2 separate regions of the Homo sapiens genome follow, and region 2 is reported to be linked to region 1. The links are microRNA targets in miRTarBase. Many come from high-throughput screens and were not tested one by one. Region 1 holds a microRNA gene; the other region holds the end of a gene's coding sequence.

The links. The annotated mature microRNA hsa-miR-135a-3p reads UAUAGGGAUUGGAGCCGUGGCG and lies in region 1 at 2,000-2,021, shown strand. An mRNA with a match to its seed (bases 2 to 7 or 8) in the 3' UTR can be bound and repressed. Matches are read on the target gene's strand: a 7mer-m8 pairs with bases 2 to 8, a 7mer-A1 pairs with bases 2 to 7 and ends in A, and an 8mer does both.
Region 2: miRTarBase lists NLK as a target of hsa-miR-135a-3p. Seed matches in the 3' UTR shown: 7mer-A1 at 2,156-2,162.

What each region holds. Positions count from the first base shown.
Region 1 is chr3:52,292,725-52,296,252 of GRCh38, reverse strand. It overlaps MIR135A1 (microRNA 135a-1), which reads left to right and starts at 1,945; the gene lies at 1,945-2,034. It overlaps GLYCTK (glycerate kinase), which reads right to left. Exons shown (of 5, transcript NM_145262.4): 5 at 996-3,528. The coding sequence ends at 3,127.
Region 2 is chr17:28,194,353-28,197,352 of GRCh38, reverse strand. It overlaps NLK (nemo like kinase), which reads right to left. Exons shown (of 11, transcript NM_016231.5): 11 at 972-2,771. The coding sequence ends at 2,717. Among named protein-coding and RNA genes, the nearest start is that of TMEM97, 120 kb to the left of the region's middle.

The sequences.
Region 1 (3,528 bases):
GCACCTCTCCTATCTGCAACCCCTTCCATCTCCTTGCATGCCCCCAACCCCCGCCCTCTGCTGTAAGGAAGCTGGCTCTCAGCATTAAAGTCCCAAAACAGCTTCATGACATTATTCCCTGCCAAAATCTTCATGAGGTTTGCCACTGATGTCAATGTGAAGTCAACTCCCTCGGCCAGGCACACTAGCCTCTGCCAGTCTTCTGGGCCTTCTTGCCCAACTTGCTCATTGTATCCCCTACACTCTAACTACACCTGTGTGTCTCCACCCTGGGATGGGGCACAGCAGAGCTCAGAGACTGGCTGTGGGCTGCACTACACATACACATGCTTATACATATATTCATGCACACGCACACATGCACACACACACAGATGTGCATACAGATGCAGACACACATTTATGTAGAAGCCCACCACTCAACTGCGCATGGTTTTCTGCCAAATCACACACACAATGGAGCTGTCCCTCTGAGACAAGAAGGTTCCAACACATCTGCTGTGTGGATCCCTGGAGAGGCCAAGCATGGTTGTGTCGCCATCCCAAGCCCTTGAGGGGCAGTGGGGAAGCAGAAGTAGATCCCCTGGATCTGGCTGAGCCCTTGCTTGGCCCCAGGGTATCTGAGCCCCAGAGAGTGGCAGAGGATAGTCAAGCAGGTTCCAACTAGGTTCTTACCCTGGTTCTGTGGCCCTTATGTGGGACTGTACAGTCCCCAGTAAGCCACCTTCTCTCTCTGAATCTCCAACTATAAATCAAACGCTTGGGACTAGCTGACACTGAAGGGCTGCCCAGGCCCACTGCCCCACTGCTCTTGGCTCATGCCAAGTGCAGAGAATGGAGAGGCCTGTGAGGGTTGCTATAGCCAGCAGGGCCAGACACCCTCCATGGTGAAATCCTCCAGCTGGGCCAGGGGAAGCTTCAGAAAATGACGATGAGGTGGGCACGAGGGCAGCAGCAGCCGGAAGAAACAGAAGCCAAGAGCAAGGGACGGGCACTTCAATGATCCAAAATTGACATTTATGGAGCAAGTAATGAATCCTATCAAAACATTCACTGTGCAGGGTTTTCTCATCTCAGCATTTAGACTGTGGCCAAATACATCCTTTCTTATCTCTGGGGTATCCAGTGAGCAAATCTAACGGGTTAGGCTCACAGACCATTTGGCCCTATGGGGTCCAATCCGGGCCCTGGCCTCCCAGCCCCTACAAACAGAAGTATAGGGAAGGGGTCAATGTAGAGCAGGGGGAACCTCCTGCAAGATCCTATCCATACCCAAAGCCCTCAGCAGGGATGCAGGGAGTCATGTGCCCTGTACTAAGTATCTATGTGTACACTCAGAGATGCATTCCCACTCTGAGTACGCCAACACCAACGTCTGTATACTCACACACCTACCACCCACACACACACTGGGGACATGGCTGCCAGGCCCTCAGCTCCTGCAGCCCCTGCCCCAGCTCTCCTATCCTGCTTTTGCCTGGAACTTGGAACCCAGTGCCAATACTCATGCTCCCAAGAGCAAGGACTGAGGCAGGAACAGGCTACATGTAGACGCTGCCAGAGGAGCACCACGGCACAGGATCATGCGAGGATCACCATAACCCCAGAGACTGTGACCCTAGTCAGCAGGAACTCCATGCCAGCACAGAAGGAAAGGAAGCGGTGCCTGCGCATCCCAGTGGGGTGCAAGCTCCCCTTTTCCTAAACCTCCCTGGTCCCCAGAGCCCGCTTACCACGTTTACCTCCCTCCCAATCTCCAGCCTGCCCTGTGTGAGCCAGGCCCCCAGGTCATGAACTGTCTGCAAGCTAGGCTGCCCAGAGCCCAGGTGGGGAAGGGAAACCCTTCCCAGGGGAAAGTCCTGCCAGCCCTGGCCCAGGGCCCCTCCACACCCTCAGGGAGGAGGGGAGGGTTGGGGTGGAAGAAGTGCCTGCAAGAGCAGCCCCAGGCCTCGCTGTTCTCTATGGCTTTTTATTCCTATGTGATTCTACTGCTCACTCATATAGGGATTGGAGCCGTGGCGCACGGCGGGGACAGCCAGCGGAGGGTTCTGACACTGAGCAAGGGGGCTCAAAAGGAGGCAGGACAGTGGCACCTCCCTCTCTCAACCCAGGCTGCTGGCCAGGCCAACACAGCCGTTCCTCTATTCCCACTTGCCTCTTCTCCCGCCAGTGGTCACAGGAAGAGGTGTGGGTCACTGGACCTCATCACTGGCTGGACCCACCATCCCAGTGCTGGGACCCCCACTGAAGGGCTGACTTCAGGGTCTGGACTTGGTCCCCAGAGGAGTGGCTGAAGGAACTAGGGATGTTCAGCCTAGGACAAGGGCTGTCACAAGGAAACAGCACTGGGGGGTGGGACAAACTTCAGCTCAACCAGAAGTGCAGTATGTGGCTAAGGGCTGTCCAAAGACAGAAAGGACATCCATCCAACGAGGCCTACAAGCTGAGGCTGGAGAAGCCATGGTGACAGTGCCATGGTGGAGTCATGGTTGGGTGGGTGGGTGGCTGGTCACCCCAGACTGCAGTCTTTAGGCCTGTCCTCCCTGGGGTCTCTGCTCACGCACATCAAAGCTGTCAGGAGCCAAGCTCAACCCTCACACACTCCAGAGGGATGGGCACAGGCTCCCGTTATGCGAGGCACATCCTGCACGTACCCAGCCCAGTAGAGGGGTGTTAAGAGTCCTGCCAGGCCCTGGTACTGTGGCTGCAGCCGTACCACGCTCCCCTCCCAGCGGCTCCCCCGTGAGGCCTCACTCTGAGGGAAGGCGCACTGAGAACCCATGGCATGGTCCTATTTATTTTCAGACATTCTCGCTTCACAGAAAGAAACAGGGTGAGGGGCTCAAGAGAGAGGCTGCCCAAGGGAGAAGCACGGGAACGCTGAACTGGCCGAGGGGCTTGTCCTCATCCTCAGGGGTAGGGGGAAGCCCCCATCTGCCAGTCTGGCTGGAAGGGAATAGATATAGAGCAGAGGCCCTGAGTGGAAGGTGACAGTTAACCAAACAGCCAAGGCCAAGGAGAGGAGGGGCCCTAAGGCTTAGAGAGGCCCTGAGGACCAACCTTGCTCTGCCATCTGACCTTGCCCTTGTAGGCCTCCTCTGAACTCCCAAAATGTGACCTATGCCATCACCGAGGCCGCAGGAACAAGAGGTGGGTGTCCATGACATTGGTACCTGTCATCCCTGTGTGCAGCAGGTGTGCCCCACCCTGGAGGCAGCAGAAGAAGGTATGTGAGTCATTGTGGGCTAGGAAGGTGGCTATGTCCAGGCCCTCAGCTGCAGCCTGGCTGGCAAGCTCAGGTGTGACCCAGGCCCCAGCAGCCTCTGTGGGCCCATCCTGCCCATCGGTGCCACCGCTCAAAAACAGCACATCTATCGGCCCCAGCGGCCACCTTCTCAACTCTGCTCCAACACGCAGGGCCAGTTCCTGGTTCCGGCCACCCCTGCCCGAGCCCTGCAGCTGTACTGTGGGCTCGCCACCAGCCAGCAGGCAGACTGGGCCCCTTCCCCATGCCATGGTCTCCAGAGC
Region 2 (3,000 bases), not on the chromosome of region 1:
GGATTATAGGCGCCCGCCACCATGCCTGGCTAATTTTTATATTTTTAGTAGAGATGGGGTTTCACCATGTTGGCCAGGCTGGTCTTGAACTCATGACCTCAAGTGATCTGCCCACCTCAGCCTCCCAAAGTGCTGAGATTACAGGTGTAAGCCACCATGCCCGGTCAGAATTTAGTTTCAAAATGATATGTGTTAACTCAAAATGCTCTCTTGTAAGTGATAAAACTGGTTTCCTTATCTAAGCATTGGTGATATTAATATGGCTTCTTGACAAGTAATTCTTATACTTAGTAAGTATTCAAAATTTTGTTGAATGAATAATAAATGTATTTATATTAATTTACATGAGTTAGAATAGTCAACTGCCTCAATGTCAGGAAAAAAAATCCATTCATTTTGCTAAATAAAAAAGATAGGGAGAAGTACACGCCACCTACAAACTCAAGAGTAATGTTGCTTTATCTAGCCTCAGGGAAAGTATTTTGAAGTCAGGCAGTCTGGTTTCAGGCCTTGATTACACCACCACTGGGCTGGGACTTCTTCCTTAGCTGAAAGTACCTTTGGGCTGCTAGAGGCAGGAGGCAGAAGTGAAGAGGAGGGAGGTGTCAAGTCCCTTTACCAGTCTGCTTCATACAGAGCAATCTACTTTTATGTATTTAATATATTGGACTCCAAGATATTGCTTCAAAGAAAAAAAAGTTTGAAAACCACTGGATTAGAGACTCCAAGGTCTAAAAAGACTTCTCTATTGTGTATATTTAAATCACATCTTTGATATTGATTTAACTAAATTTTCAATATGTTTTTGTCAATCTAAAGTTTTTGAGAAGATTTTTAAAAACAACCAATTTCCTCAAAGATCAAAGTGGAAATATAAATAGGAAGTGTCTCAAAACTTTGCAAAGTCAGGATACGAGCTGTACTGAAGAGAAAACAAAGGAAAGAAACTGAAATAAAACAGATGACACATCTTTTTCAAATGTCACATTTAATGTTTTCACCACTGTACTTCAAATCTACATTGTACAAAGTGACCAGAAAGTGTGCCACGGTAATTGACCAACCTCTGAGATTGTACCTTTCACACCAGTGTCTTCTTGGGCTCTTTTGATACTAAACACGTTTCTCATTCAAGTGAATTGAAATGCTTCAGTTGGGTTGATTCTCAGGAGCCTCATAAAAAAAAAACAAAGATATTGCACCATCTTTGTTTAGTAATTCAATGTTTGTTTCTTTCACAGCAAATAATTACTTCATTGAAGTTAAAACTTCCAAACATAACTTATTAATAGTCTTCAAATTCAGCTCAGATCACTCAAGTTGAAAATACTCTGCTAAATACAGATAACTTACAATAACTTTAACAGTTAATTGTCCATAACACACACCAAGGTTTTTTCCTAGACCAATTTTAAGACGATCCATTAGTATTCCTTGTACAGGTGAAAAATGATCTTCAATTTTCTTGTCTTTTTATTTTTAATATAAAAGTTGGAAGGGACATTCAAGTTTCAAGTCTCCACACTGAACTCAAAAAAAAAAAATAGTCATCATCAGCATGTGGAGGTAAACAAGCCAAGTTGTATAACTCCAGGAGGTAGAGGCCTTCGATTTGTATTCATATGTACATATGCACAGAAGAATTCAGTGTTCCAACAGAAAAAAAGAACTTGTCAAAAAGTAATAAGTTATTTACTACTGTGACATTTCAAGACTCCCACAGCTTTGCCTAAGGACACAAACACATTTGACATAATTCCCTATGTGCCTTTTTTTGTGGCTTAAATTTTTTTTTAAATTTGTTTTTGTCTTTTATTATTTTTTTACTGTCCAGTGCAGGAAAAGTCTCACAAAATTTCACAGACCTAAAATGTGCAAGCTAGTTCTCTTTCTATACAGCAATATTGGGATTCTTTTGAAATTAGCCCAGAAATGAATTATTTACACACATGAAAGATGCATGCTTGGGGTTCTTTTATGTAAGAAAGAGCAGAAAAACTTCTAATAAAAATAGATTAAATATATATATATATATTTATACTGGGTAAGGAAAACAAAAGTTTAGTCTCTCCTAGTCACAAACTCATTCTCTCTACCCACAACATTGGATTTTAGACAGCACACATCACCATCACGGCTCTAATGAGAAGCTAATTATAGGGCTTGATCATTAGGTGGCATGCCCCTCCTCCCTACCCTCCCCCCAGGTGCAGCCACGATCAGCTCACGTGGCTCCATGATTGGTCGCAGGCAAGGTTCCTAGATTCTTTAGTTTTAGAAAACCCCAAATCTTTAGGAATGGCTCAAATATCAAAATGTATGACTGTCCTTTGTGTTTGTGTGTGTGTGTGTGTGTGTGTGTGTGTGTGAACAATCTCACTTCATTTTAGAAAAGAAAAACAAAACATAAAACCCCAAACTCCCAAATTTGGTTCAATTCTCTTTTGTTCTGAGGTGAGCCATAACAGCTGCACTAAATTCATAAAACATGTGCAACTCTGGGTAAAATATTTTTCTTCTAAAAGCACAACCACTTTACAAGATTAAAAGTCTAGTAACATTTCTAAATATTATTCATATCATACAAGTAGTGGTTGTTAATTTAAAACTTCATTAGTAAAATTACAGTACAAGCATGATTAACCTCCAGAATTGCAAATCCCAGACTCCAGTGGAAAGCTACATTACATCTTCAGTAGTACATTATCTTCCACCATCACTCCCACACCAGAGGAGATGGGGGCATCTCAGATGGCTGAGCAACAGTGGAACTGGAAGAAAACAGAGATGGAGAAATTAGTTGTAATGTCACAATGGACAAAAGGGTAATTCACTACTTCCTGTTTTCCTCTCTTCCTCTGAAAAAATTAATTCCACTTCTGGATTTTTATTTGTTTCTTTGAAGTTGAATTTATTCTAAGTTGCTTGTTTATGGACCTGTTATCTATGGAGAGGCAATCTGGTATAGTGGCTAATATGTAGGCTTGAAAACCACATGTC